4 linked regions of the Homo sapiens genome follow. The protein of the gene in region 1 purifies or fractionates together with the protein of each later gene. This does not show direct contact. Each region holds a gene or a part of one and is shown in the gene's direction. Other genes may lie near its edges.

Evidence for each region. Proteins that work in one complex are often made in the same cells at the same time.
Region 2: the proteins of BRINP2 (region 1) and MANBA purify together in Homo sapiens (affinity purification with mass spectrometry; one large-scale study listed by BioGRID and IntAct). This does not show direct contact.
Region 3: the proteins of BRINP2 (region 1) and GALNT1 purify together in Homo sapiens (affinity purification with mass spectrometry; one large-scale study listed by BioGRID and IntAct). This does not show direct contact.
Region 4: the proteins of BRINP2 (region 1) and LMF1 purify together in Homo sapiens (affinity purification with mass spectrometry; one large-scale study listed by BioGRID and IntAct). This does not show direct contact.

What each region holds. Positions count from the first base shown.
Region 1 is NC_000001.11:177,250,955-177,254,513, forward strand, and holds part of BRINP2 (BMP/retinoic acid-inducible neural-specific protein 2 precursor), read left to right. Parts: intron 1-3,559. UniProt on the Homo sapiens protein: Inhibits neuronal cell proliferation by negative regulation of the cell cycle transition.
Region 2 is NC_000004.12:102,726,436-102,729,994, reverse strand, and holds part of MANBA (beta-mannosidase precursor), read left to right. Parts: exon of another isoform or gene 1-2,625; coding exon of another isoform or gene 2,626-2,727; intron 2,728-3,311; coding exon 3,312-3,406; intron 3,407-3,559.
Region 3 is NC_000018.10:35,703,714-35,707,272, forward strand, and holds part of GALNT1 (polypeptide N-acetylgalactosaminyltransferase 1), read left to right. Parts: intron 1-3,559. UniProt on the Homo sapiens protein: Catalyzes the initial reaction in O-linked oligosaccharide biosynthesis, the transfer of an N-acetyl-D-galactosamine residue to a serine or threonine residue on the protein receptor.
Region 4 is NC_000016.10:869,952-873,510, reverse strand, and holds part of LMF1 (lipase maturation factor 1), read left to right. Parts: intron 1-2,169; coding exon 2,170-2,350; intron 2,351-2,628; coding exon 2,629-2,782; intron 2,783-3,444; coding exon 3,445-3,559. UniProt on the Homo sapiens protein: Involved in the maturation of specific proteins in the endoplasmic reticulum. Required for maturation and transport of active lipoprotein lipase (LPL) through the secretory pathway. Each LMF1 molecule chaperones 50 or more molecules of LPL.

The sequences.
Region 1 (3,559 bases):
TTGAATATAATATTAACTAATCCTTGTAAGATGCTTGGAATGCCTATCACATACTAAAAATTCATTAAATGTTAGCCATTATTTTTTATTATTTGCTCATAAAAAGCTTCCTTAGACAGTATCATTCCTTTTTCTAGGTCATTCACTATTCTGTATTATGATTTATTTAGCAGCCACAGGAGCTGGACTTAGGCCTTTATCTGTGATTCCTCCCATGTACTCTCTGTATGGACTTGGCTTTTTGAGGCATCTCAATTTCTTCTCCTGCAAATGGGCAGGTTAAAACTGGCTTAATCCAGGAACATTTTGCTGCGGTGTAAATGTTATGCTATGTTTTGAATATACAATTAATCCATGTTTTGTGTAGAAAATGTAAAAAGTGGAATGTTCTGGGTAATAAAAATATTTGTGTTAAAGGATACTAAACACCACAAAAAAATTAGAATGCAATGAAATACACTTAACATTTAACCTTATCTACTCGAAGGAAAACAGTGCTATAGAAACAGCAGTATGATATTGGCCTGGGTTTTAAGCACAACTCTGTCATTTACTAACTGTGTGACTTCATCCACACTACTTTCTTAATCTCTCTGGGTCCAAGTTGTGACTATTGTCACCACCATCATAGTTGCTGTTAATAGCATAGAAGGAGGGCCAGGACACTAGCTTTTTGTTCTGGTTCTATTATCAACTGGCTTTATTGCTTTAGGTAAACCACTTACCCTTTCTGTTTTATGAGAAACATAAGGAAACTAGAGGATACTAGTTCCCATCCAGACCCAGTGTCTGACTGGGCCAGACAACAGACTACCAATTTTTATTTATTATATTTAATTAAAGTGGGGCCCACCTCTATGCTAAGTTGGCCTTTCCTTTCCGTGAGGGGCTTCGACCATTATAAGAAACTATGGAAATTGTAATAATGTCTTTTTCCCCTAGCAATGTAGAAAAATAATAGATTAGAAATTATTAGTTAATGAAGTCTAGACATGCCCTATCCCAAAGCAAGGGGGCTGGGTTTGATGACCCTAAGGTTTTTTGTTTGTTTATTTGCTTTTAGTAATCTGATTTTATGATTCATCAATGTAATTATCAACTAACCAGTGAGAGGATTCTAGTTTCCATCCAGCCAATTAGAGATGAGATTAGGCAACTGTTCTTTACCCTGCAGTGGGGTTTGGGATAGAAAATACTTTTGACAAATACTCTGTACTTTAATTAAAGCTTAGCATTTGCTGCACAAAGGAAATAACTGACAATATATTATTATGAACTTACCTGCTTAGATAAATAAAGCTACACAGCGGGAATTTTGAAGACTTTGTTGGAACCATGAATTATTAGTCACCCGCTTTTCTTTGTTTCCCTAGTAACATTTGACACATGCTCCTCTCTCAGTCTCTACAGTTAGATGGTGGGATTTATGCCTCAAATGTGGCATGGATTTTTATTTATTCATGTATTTATAATTTTAATTTTAAAAATTTTGTTTATAATTGACATATCCGGCACAACAGTGTATTGGTGTGATGTTTCAATACATGCATACACCGAATAATGATCAAATCAGGGTAGTTAGCATATACATCACCTCAAACATCTATCATTTCTTTGTGGTGATAACTTTCAAGATGCTTTTTTCTAGTTACTTAAAATCTACAGTACATTATTATTAGCCACAGTTACCCTACTATGTAATAGAGCACATAACTTATTCTTCCTAACTATAACTTTGTATCTGTCAACCAAGCTCTCCCCATCTCCCTTTCCCACTACCCTTCCTAGCCTCTGGTAACCACTGTTCTAGTCTCTAATTCCATGAGATCAACTTTTTTAGACCTACATATGAGTGAGGTTATGTGGTATTTGTCTTTCTATGCCTGGCTTATTTCACTTAACATTACGTCCTCCAGGTTCATCCATGTTGCTGCAGATGATAGGATTTCATTCTTTTCACAGCTGAGTAGTATTTCATTGTGTATATCATCAGTTTATGGACATTTAGGTGGATTCCATATTTTGGTTGTTTTGAATGGTGCTGCAATAAACATGAGGGTGCAGATATCTCTTTGATATACTAATTTCAGTTCCTTTGAATATGTACCTAGTAGTGAGATTGCTAGATCATATGTTAGTTCTATTTTTAGTTTTCTGAGGAATTTTCATGCTGTTTTCATAATGACTGCACTAATTTACACTCCCACCAACAGTGTATTAGAGTTCCCCTTTCTCTGCATCCTGACCAGCATTTGTTATTTTCTGTCTTTTTGATAACAGCCATTCTAACTAGGGTGAGGTGACATTTCACTGTGCATTTGATTTGTATTTCCCTGATGATTAGCGATGTTGAGCATTTTATCATATACCTGCTGGCCATTTTTATGTATTCTTTTGAAAAATGTCTATTCAAGTCTTCTGACCATTAAAAAAAATGTTCTTTTGCTATTAAGTTATTTGAGTTCTTTACATATTCTGGATATTAACCCCTTATTGGACTCATAATTTGCAAATATTTTCTTCAGTTCTGTAGGTTGTCTCCTCGCTCTGTTGTTTCCTTTGCTATGCAGGAGCTTTTCAGTTTGATGTAATCCCATTTGTTTATTTTTGCTTTTGTTGCCTGTGCTTTTGAGTTCTTATCCAAAAAAACTTGCCCACATCAATGTCATAAAGCTTTTCCCCTAAACTTTATTCTATTAGTTTTATAGTTTTGAGTCTTATGTTTAAGTCTTTCATTCATTTTGAGCTGATTTTTGTACATGGTGAAAGATAGTTTTATTCTTCTGCATGTGGGTATTATGTTTTTTCAGCACCATTTATTAAAGATATTCTCCTTTCCCCAATGTGTGTTCCTGGCACCTTTGTCAAAAATCCGTTTATTTATTTTTAATTATTTTATTTTTATGCAACTCTATCATTTGCATTTCATGGACATTTGGGGAAGGTTAGACCAAGATTTGGCACTGTTATGATGAGCAGATTTGGGATGGGTGAAGAGGGTGTAAACACTTTACATTTTGTTGCTTCCTAAGGCAGTGGAGCTGGTTCTTACCAGTATAATTTGGGGGACAATGGAAAACTCATTTTTTATTAATGGATATGATTCTTTAAATTTCATCCCAAGACAAAGATTTATAAACCTGTCCCCTTTAAAATGCAAACATTCCAGTGAGGAGCAAAGCATGAAAATTAAAATCTTCAACAGGATTAGAAAGGAACAACTTTGCAATCTTCTAGAATAAGGCTTCTCAAAATATGGATCCGCTTAGTCTATTTCAGAGTGTTCATGTTGACATTTGCACTGAAGGTACAAAATAAAACTGCTGGTACTTTAATTTGAATAAAAGCAGTCATACCACATAACACTAAGAGTCATGTATTCTTCATCATTACACACTTGCACCTAAACACATAAGCACACATGCACACACACACACACACACACACACACACACTATCTTCACTTAAGAATGTCCTTAAAGCAGTAACATTTATTACTTTTATTAAATCCTGACCCTTGGGTACATGTGTTTTTAATATTCTGTAAGATGAAATGGGA
Region 2 (3,559 bases), on another chromosome or scaffold:
GTGGGTGGCATCACCACCATCACAGTCAACCAGAGCCTGCTGAGCCCCCTTAACCTGGAGGTGGACCCCAACATCCAGGCTGTGCGCACCCAGGAGAAGCAGCAGATCAAGACCCTCAACAACAAGTTTGCCTCCTTCATAGACAAGGTATGGTTCCTGGAGCAGTAGAACAAGATGCTGGAGACTAAGTGGAGCCTCCTGCAGCAGCAGAAGATGGCTCAGAGCAACATGGACAACATGTTCCAGAGCTACATCAACAACCTTAGGCAGCAGCTGAAGACTCTGGGCCAGGAGAAGCTGAAGCTGGAGGCGGAGCTTGGCAACATGCCCGGGCTGGTGGAGGACTTCAAGAACAAGTATGAGGATGAGATCAATAAGTGTACAGAGGTGGAGAATGAATTTGTCCTCATCAAGAGGATGTGGATGAAGGTTACATGAACAAGGTAGAGCTGGAGTCTCACCTGGAAGGGCTGACTGACGAGATCAATTTCCTCAAGCAGCTGTATGAAGAGGAGATCCAGGAGCTGCAGTCCCAGATCTCGGACACATCTGTGGTGCTGCCCATGGACAACAGCCGCTCCCTGGGCATGAACAGCATCATCGCTGAGGTCAAGGCACCATACGAGGAGATCGCCAACTGCAGCCAGGCCAAGGCTGAGAGCATGTACCAGATCAAGGATGAGGAGCTGCAGATGCTGGCTGGGAAGCACGAGGATGACCTGCAGTGTACAAAGACTGAGATTTCTGAGATGAACCGGAACATCAGCCAGCTCCAGGCTGAGACTGAGGGCCTCAAAGGCCAGAGGGCTTCCCTGGAGGGCACCATCACAGATGTCTGCAGCACAGGGGGCTGGCTGTTAAGGATGCCAACGCCAAGCTGTCCAAGCTGGAGGCCGCCCTGCAGCAGGCCAAGCAGGACATGGCATGGCAACTGCTTGAGTACCAGGAACTGATGAACATCAAGCTGGCCCTGGACATCGAGATAGCCACCTACAGGAAGCTGCTGGAGGGCGAGGAGAGCCAGCTGGACTCTGGGATGCAGAACATGAGTATCCATACAAAGACCACCAGTGGTTATGCAGGTGATCTGAGCTCGGCCTGTGGGGGCCTCCCAAGCCCCAGCTTTGGCTCTGGTGTGGGCTCCAGCTCCTTCAGCCGCACCAGCACCACCAGGGCAGTGGTTGTGAAGAAGATCGAGACCCATGATGGGAGGCTGGTGTCCTAGTCCTCTGACGTCCTGCCCAAGTGAACAGCTGCGGCAGCCCCTCCCAGCCTGCCCCTCCTGCGACTCTCCCAGAGAGCAGAAGGGAGCACAGGGAACGTGAGACCCACCTGAGGCCCAGCCCTAGCCCTCAACCCACCCACAGGGTAGTTTACTACCTGGGGACCCCCCATGCCTATGCCTTCAGCTACAAAACAATTCAATTGCTTTTTTTTTTTGGTCCAAAATAAAACCTCTGCTAGCTCTGCCAACAGCTAACCTTATAGTTACCTGTTTTTTTCAAATGTGAAAGATGGGTATTCCGAAAAACCATACAAAGAGTCCCTCTCTTCAATCTGCATCCAAAAACTCATGAAATTAGAAACTGTCCAACCACAGGAAAACAGCCTGGCTAAGATTCAAAGTGTAGGCAAAAGCCTGCAGAGAGTGAACAGAATCCTCATGGGCCCAAGGAGCATCCAGAAAAGTCACTTCAAAGAGGTGGGAAAGCAGAGCAACAGGAAGGAACAGGGTGCCTGGGCATTTGTGGAGAATGCTGCCAAAGAAAAAAGGCTCAGGAGTCCAGCCCCAAGGGAGCTGGAACAGCCTCACATAGAGCAGGGGCATGAGAAGTTAGCAGGAAACGCCATCTATACCAAGCCTTCGTTCAACCAAGAGCATAAGGCAGCAGTCTTCTCTTTGCTGAAACCCTTCTCCATGGGCGTGCCTTCTATCTCCACCCCTGCAAAAGCCCTACCTGTGGTCAGAAACAGATTGAAAGACTTACCCATTTTGGTTTTAGAAAATGCAAAGTTGAGTTAAAACCAATCGTACATTCCAGAAAAGTTCTCTCAGTAGACTTTGCTTGCAAAGAGGCCTCCATTCTCTGCAGTGAAAAGCCTCATAAATGCCCCTTCACAAGGGGCTTTTTCATCTTTAGGAGACCTGAGTCTTCAGGAAAATCCTTTTCCGGAAGTATTTCTCCATCAGAATGTTTTAAAAGCACCACTGCAAGAAATGCCTTTGAACAAAACATTTTTATGGAAAACACTACTATGCCAGAAGGCACCATCTCTGAAAACACAACCTACAACCATCCTCCTGAGGGAGATTCTGCTGAGACTGCGTTCAACTTAGAGAAGACTGTGAAACACAATGGGAATACAACAACATGGGCACTGGCCTGTCTCCCGAGCCCAAAAGCTTCAATTACCCATTGCTCTCGTCCCCAGGTGATCAGTTTGAAATTCAGCTAAACCAGCAGCTACGGCCCCTCATCCCCAATAATGATGTGAGAAGACTCATTTCTCATGTTATCTGGACCTTGAAGATGGAGTGCTCTGAGACCCATGTGCAATTGGCCTATACCAAGCTCATCTCCAGGACAGGCCTCCTGATTCATCAGTGAGCAGCAAGAAGTAAAGATGTCCAAGGCAGAATGGGATACAGACCAATGGAAAACTGAGAACTATATCAATGAGAGCACGGAAGCCCAGAGCAAACAGAAAGAGCAGAAGTCAAGTGAGGTGAGGACCACACAGAAACATGAAACCCAGATTTTCCTATCATTTAGCATCTTCCAGGAAAGTGCCCACACAGGAGAACCTGGGACTCCCAGACCATAGTTTGTCTTGGCCATGTAACTTCAGCCGTGACAGTGATCTCCCACTTTGCTCATTTAGAGAGTGAAACAGGTTAGTACACAAGATAAACTGTAGGCCGGACATGATGGCTCATGCCTGTAATCCTAGCACTTTGGGAGGCTGAGGTAGGTGGATCACTTGAGGTCAGGAGTTTGAGACCAGCTTGGCCAACATGGTGAAACCCTGTCTCCAAGGGGAAGCCAATCTTAATGCCCACCAATTTTCTTTGATAATGAAGCTGTATTATTTATATCTCAGAGGATTATTTCATTTCAGGTAATTTGTTGGAATTTTCCCTTCACATTTTTCAGTATTAACGATCTGTCCCCTCTTTGTACTACTAGGCTAAAAGTTCGTTAATTTTTAGGTGATAAATAGCTGTTGTTAATAATTTATTTTATGTTTGTTTTATTAATTTATTTGTGCATATTTAACCATCTACCATAATTTTTACCTTGTATCAACAGGATTCTTACTACAGATTTAATGACCTTAACTACAGATGGGTCTCTTTGGATAACTGGACCTATAGCAAAGAATTTAAAATCCCCTTTGAAATTAGGTATGTATGTTTGTGGGTGTATTTTTATTATTATTTGAACTTTTCTTCTTTTTCTATCTGGGCAAAAATGTTGTGTTTTGTTTGTTTTTTTTTTGTTTTGTATGTTTTGTTTTGTTTTGTTTGTTTAGGTTACATATCTGAGAGTTAAGTAAG
Region 3 (3,559 bases), on another chromosome or scaffold:
AAAGGAATGAGTTCTTGTGGACCTTGAATATGGATCAAACTTGTCTTATACACTAAATATTGACAGGCGGGAAAAATAAGTAAAATAAATGTGTTTTAATCTCCCTAATAATTAAATTTTAGTCTTATAAAATCACAGTTGCCTCCAATCCCTGGGTCCTTGTTTACTGAGTAGCCACTGTTCCTTCTGTATGTCTTCAAGTTCTATAGTCTAGTTTGGGAGAAATGAGGCAGAAAGTAGGCTTTTAAAATTACTTAATTAAACACTTCAGTGAAAGATAAGTTTTAATTAATAAAGTTCTCTGGCTTGTGATGATTTCCCAGTGACATATATGACAGAACCTTTCCTATTTATCTTTCCTTTTGTCTGGAACCTTTCTCTCCACCACCATCAAATGGGCTCACATGGAAGTACTTAAAAGGTATTAGTTCAATTAAAGCATCCGTGGTAAACCTCTTTCCACCTATTTGCCTAATTTTTCAACTTGTGCTTTTGCCAGGTTCTGGAACCAGCACCAACATCTTCAATATTTCTTTCTCTGGTTCTTTTTAATTTGGCTTAACTTCTGTAAGGCATTTAGTGCCACTAAACAGATGACTTTTTTTTTTTTTTTTGAGGCAGGGTCTTGCTCTGTCACCCAGGCTAGAGTGCAGTGGTACAGTCACAGCTCACACAACCTCCACCTCCCAGGCTCAAGCTATCCTCCCACCTCAGCCTCTAGAGGAGCTGGGACCACAGGCACACGCCATCATGCCTGGCTAATTTTTGTAATTTTGTGGAGACAGAGTTTCACCATGTTGTCCAGGCTGGTCTTGAGCACTTAGGCTCAAGCGATCCACCCGCCTCAGTCTCTCAAAGTGCTGGGATTACAGGCATGAGCCATCATATCTGGCCTGATATTTTCTAATTTATTTTTTTTTATTTTTTATTTTATTTATTTATTTTTTTGAGATGGAGTCTCGCTCTTATCGCCCAGGCTGGAGTGCAGTGGTGCAATCTCGGCTCATGCAACCTCCACCTCCCTGGTTCAAGCTATTCTCCTGCCTCAGCCTCCTGAGTAGCTGGGATTACAGGTGCCCGCCACCATGCCCGGCTAATTTTTGTACTTTTAGTAGAGACAGGGTTTCTCCATGTTGGCCAGGCTGGTCTTGAACTCCTGACCTCAGGTGATCTGCCCACCTCGGCCTCCCAAAGTGCTGGGATTACAGGCATGAGCCACTGCACCCAGCCTGGCCTGATATTTTCATATCCTCTTATGCCTTGGCCATAAGATGCACTACTGTTTAGGTTCTTCTCTTAGTTTGCTCTCTGTTCCTTTTGTTGGCCTGGCTCTCTCTCCTTCTTCGTCCTACTCCTTAAATGGAAATGTTGTCCCAAGTTACTGACTTTGGCCATCTTTCCTCCCTTTACTGTGTCATACACCAACCATGGTCTACTTTAATCATCAATATGCTGTTCTCTGAACATACCTTATACTTTCCTAGTTCACATCTAAGATAATATGCTTCCCTCTGCCTGACACACCTTACCCATTCTTAAGAACCCAGCTTTGACATCACTTCCATGAATCCTAACCTGAAATTAACTCTGTCAATCTTAATTACAGTCATCTCTGACCTCTATAAAGCTGTACTTGTTTGTAGTTATTTATCTAGCAATCTTTTCTCCACTATTAGATTGTTAGATCCTAGAGGACAGAGATCATCTTTTATAAATCCTGGGTCTCCTTTCACAATGTCAGGCTATAGAAAAAATGATATTACCTATAATAATAGCTCAGTTAATATGGCCATTGGAAATGGCCTGAATGCTCTGTTCTAGGGTTTCCCATGGTATGTGCCACTGCCATTTTGGGTGTGACTGCCCCATGCATTGCAGGGTATGTAGCATCTCTGGCTCCAGATAGTAAGTGCTAGTGGCACCCCATAGCCATTGTGACAACCACAAAATTTTAAAAATGAAAAACCTCTTAAGTTTATTGGAAAATGACAGTATATTAATTAGGCAGTATTTTTAGAAACCTATTTATTATAGCTAAAACAAATAGGGATTTATTTTTCTTACATAAGTCTAGAGGTAAGTAAATTCAGTGGCATAGTGATGTCAGGGATAACGTTGTTGTAATATTCTTAGCTTTTCCTTGTGGCCACAAGGTGGTTGCTGCAGCTTTATCGCATCCCAACTCCAGGCAGAAAGAAAAGGGAAAGAGGAATGGTACACTACCACATGTGTTGCTCTTTATTAGCAAAGTAAAAGGTTTTTCTGGAACCCCCTTAGCAGGCTCTGCTTATGTCTTATGGACCAGAACATCCCATGGTGACCCCCAGCTGCAAAGGAAGCTGGGAAAGCAAGTCTTTGGTTTTCTAGTCGTTAGAGTGTGAGATGGCCAAGAGATAGAGGGATTGGGAAAGACTGTTGGCTAGCCAACCTACACAGTCTACCACAACAGTATTCCAAAAGTAAATGTTTGATGAAACAGGTAAGAAGCTGGAGATAAGAGTATTTAGAAAGAGCCGGCCGGGCGCGGTGGCTCAAGCCTGTAATCCCAGCACTTTGGGAGGCCGAGGTGGGCGGATGACGAGGTCAGGAGATCGAGACCACAGTGAAACCTCGTCTCTACTAAAAATACAAAAAATACACCATACAGGCATGGTGGCAGGCACCTGTAGTCCCAGATACTCAGGAGGCTGAGGCAGGAGAATGGCGTGAACCCAGGAGGCGGAGTTTGCAGTGAGCCGATACCGCGCCACTGCACTCCAGCCTGGGCGACAGAGTGAGACTCCATCTCAAAAAATAAAATTAAATTTTAAAAAAAAGAGCCAGTTATGAGTGTGAAGTTTTAAAACTTCTAGATCGCTTTGCAAGGTTTTTTCCTGCTGAGATAAAACATTAATGCTGGGGATTGATTTCTCCCAGAAGCAGACTCGAAGATAAAGTTGAGCATTCAGGATGTTTGTTAGGGAGCACTTTCTGGGCCAATATCTGTAAAAGGAATACCTCCCTCTCCCTGGGCAGAGGGAGAAGTTGAGTTGCAATGCAGGTCCAACAGCCTGAGCAGACTACAGGGAAAGCACTGGAGGGGAACAGCCCATCAGAATCGTCCTGCCTCCATCCATTGAAAACTTAACAGTCTAGAAAAATAACAGAATACTTATGTCCATTATCTGTAATCTAAAATCATGAATTCTTAGATTTCAAAGCAACCCTAGAAATTAAACCCAGGATACTTTTTATACAAGTAGAAATTGAAACTCAGAATTAATTTCCCAAGGAAATTAATTGCCCAAGGTCTCTGAGCAGCCAGATAGTATGACTAGATCTCAAATCTGGAATTCTAGATTCTCGATCCAGGTTTCTTTGCACAGTACCACGCTATTTTTGATTAATAGTTTTGAGTCTTGCTTGTATTACATATTACATAAAATTTACAATAAGGCACTGGGCTCTTTTGCTTTGACTACTTGTATCTGTCCTTTCTGGAATAAAATGCAGATTTTAGACCTAGTTACATCTAGAAATTAGGAGTAGGAGCTTGGCAAATTATTTTTTCTAGGATGCA
Region 4 (3,559 bases), on another chromosome or scaffold:
AAAGATGCCACTCTTCCTTCTTGGGGCCATGCGCCGTTGGCCTCGGAACACCTGCTGCTCCGTCTCTTGGGCCCAGGATTCCATCACCTCAAGCTCCTCTTCCTGTGCCGGCCTTGGGGACCCCCTCGGGCCTCGCCTCCGCTCCCAGCCACCGGCCGGGTCATCTGTGGGCCGCACAGCCTTGTGAGGACTCCGCCGGCGGGGGCGAGCACAGATGGGCAGTGAGAAGACTGATTTCCCTCTGAGGAGATGGCTCAGTGATGCTAGAAGAAAAACAAGGAAGGCGAGGTCCCCCAGGAGCGCTCAGGCCGTGCACTCTACGCGGAACTGCGTTTTCATAACAAAACAGCCGACCAGATGGAGGGCGAGAGATGCACCAGAGCAGCTGAACGGGGCGCAGCTGGGGATGCCTCTGCATGGAGCAGGGCCCCGAGCCCCGAAGCTTTCTTAGAAACAGGATCTGATGCCCAGATCTGTGCTCTCTGGAGCCCTAGTTCCCTGAGGCTAGAGTTCCCCACTGAGCCCACAGCAGGATGACCCAAGGGGGCTTTGGAAATACACTCAGGCAGGGCCCACCCTGACCCAGGCAGGCAGGTGCTCAGGGCTGGGTGTTCCTCAAAGCTCCTGATGGTTCTGGCATGGCCGAGCATCCGAACGGGCACTGGCTCAGGCTGTGCCCCAGGTCGCTTTGGTCCCATCTGCCAGTCAGGCTGACCACAGCGAAGGGCCAGAAAGACCCGAGCTTTTCCCACCAGGACATTCCAGTGTCACCTGTGGCATCTCCTCCAGAGCATCCCCAAGAGTGGGCCCAAAGGTCAGACCTCAGTGCCTAGCCCTGCACCCTCCCTGTCACGGGAGCTCAGGGGCTCCCAGCCACCCCACCCCAGACCAGCCCTGGTCACACTCAGGACGGAGGGCATGGGGGTCTGGACCAGCGGAGGGGAGCTGGTGGCAGAGGTGGCTAACCCCAGCCAGGGCGAGGCGGGGCTGTTTTTGGCACAGGGGTTTAGTAACCTTGTAGACAGTGGAGAATAAGAAATAACTGTTTTGGGGCTCAGAACCAGAAAAGCTATTTTTCCCAATTCACCCAGGGAGAGCCATGAGTGCACAGTTCATAAAACACCATCATCGCCCATAACACTGATGTGGCTGCCCTCACGAGTCCCTTCATTAGACGTCGATGTCCCTGCCCTCAACCTTCCTCCTGAGTTACGGGGATAAAGGCTGGGCTTTGATGCATCAAATCTGGCTGACGGAGCTGTCTGAGGAAGCCACACCCAGGTCCTGCCGGCCCAGGGTCCACCGGCTCAGCTGCAGACCATCACCCATGCAGGGCGACCGGCCACGCAAGCTGCCCCTGTCTCCCTGATGCCTCCACGGCAACGGCAGGGGTGAGGTCTGGCAGCACACCTGTGATATCACCCGACGGAGCTGCAGGGACAGCGGCTCCATCTCCAGTTTCGTCACCTAACGATCGCTGGCCTGCGGGGATGTCCAGAAGCGGGTCCCTCTGAGTCCCTCCTGCCGCAGGTTTACTCACTGCTGCTGCTGAGTCTTTCCTTGGAGCTCTCCCAGCCGTGCTGCTCAGCCAGCCCTGCATGCAGCCCCTCCCCTCTCCTGCTGTTCATCTCTGTGGCACAGGGTCCTGTGCCTGTGTCTCACTTCCTTGCATTTCGTATTTTGGAGTGGGGGCGTTACTGGTGGCCCCCCCACGGCCCCTGTTGTCTGTGTCACCCATCGGCTGAGGGGCGTCCCCAGTACCCACTCTCCAAGCACAGCCTCCTCTGTTTGGACTCACCAGCCTTCCCCGGGCATGACCCCGGCAGGTGCCCTCTGAAAGTGAGGAGTTCCAGGAGGGCACAGGGTCTGGTGGTCTGGTCCAGCCCCCGCCTTGCGGATCACTAAAGCAAGGGACAGAACCTGCACAGAAATGTGCAGTCATGGGAGGAATGTTCTGGAAGCACCTGCCGGAAGGCACCTCTGAGGCATCTGCTGTCCCCTCCATGAAGGCACAGCTGGGTTTCAGTTGTGATGCTGGGCCCGAGGGACAGCAAGGGCAGAGCTGGGTGCAGGTTCCCTCCCCCCTCCCTGCTCCAGGAAGAGAGGCGCCAGCTGCCCAGGGGCCCCACACGAGCCCCTGCACGAGACTCAGCTGCGGCGTCTCCACAGGCCGTCCTCATCGTCAGCGGGAACCTCAGCTTCCTGAACTGGCTGACTATGGTGCCCAGCCTGGCCTGCTTTGATGACGCCACCCTGGGATTCTTGTTCCCCTCTGGGCCAGGCAGCCTGAAGGACCGAGTTCTGCAGATGCAGAGGGACATCCGAGGGGCCCGGCCCGAGCCCAGATTCGGTAGGTGGCTCAGCTGGGGGCCCCTGCCCAAGGGCAGGAGAAAGTCGGGTGGTGCCAGCCCCACAGCCTGCCCGTGTGGGTTGGGGACGCCAGGGTAGGAGGAGAGTCAGCGCCGTCCGCAGTGTAGCGTGCCAGGAACAAGGTGTGTGAGTTCGGGTGCTGCTCCGTCCCCGGGACCCAGGACAGCTGACCCTTAGGGAGCAGCAGCTGGGGTCTCCCCAGGGACAGGCCACGGGGCAGCTGGGAGCCCCACCTGGAAGATGTCACTCCCCTGCCAGGCTCCGTGGTGCGGCGTGCAGCCAACGTCTCGCTGGGCGTCCTGCTGGCCTGGCTCAGCGTGCCCGTGGTCCTCAACTTGCTGAGCTCCAGGCAGGTCATGAACACCCACTTCAACTCTCTTCACATCGTCAACACTTACGGGGCCTTCGGAAGGTATGAGCCTGGGGTCCCCGTCCCCCGGAGCTGGGTATATGGGGAGACTCAGCCCTGACCAGCCACATTCAGGTGGGGTTACAGTGCAGGCCCCCATGACCCCAAGTGTCCCCTGCCCCACCCCAGCCTGACCCAGGCACAGGCCGTGCTGTCCCCACTACCGGGCCTGGACACGCAGGCCTCCTCGTCCTGGTCCCATGAGGCAAAGGGGCAGGGCCCGAGGTCACCAGGCAGGTGGGCTGCGGCCCTGGAATGCCTACTGGGGGCGTAAGGGAGAGGCCACCAGGCCCCAACCCCCTGCGTGGGAATGCCAGGTAGTGCCACCTGAACACAGGCACCCTCCCTGTCCTGGGGCCAGCCCCTTGGCCTCTGTCCCCCTCATGTCCACCCTGAGCTGCCGAGGGGCATGGGGCACATGGCGGCTGCAGCTGGGTCTTCACGGGCAGAGAAGGTGTTCTCGAATGAGACCCTGGGGCCACAGTTCCCAAAAGTTCTCCTCAGCCCCACCCAGCCTCTCAGTAGCCCCTGACCAGGAGGCAGGTGGAGGCTGTAGCCCTCCCCCTGGGCCAGGATGGACAGTCGGGGAACCCCCCCCACCCATGCACCCCACTCGGCCCAGCCGGTGTGTGACGTGGGCCTGGCCTGCCTCGGTCTCCCGGCAGCATCACCAAGGAGCGGGCGGAGGTGATCCTGCAGGGCACAGCCAGCTCCAACGCCAGCGCCCCCGATGCCATGTGGGAGGACTACGAGTTCAAGTGCAAGCCAGGTGACCCCAGC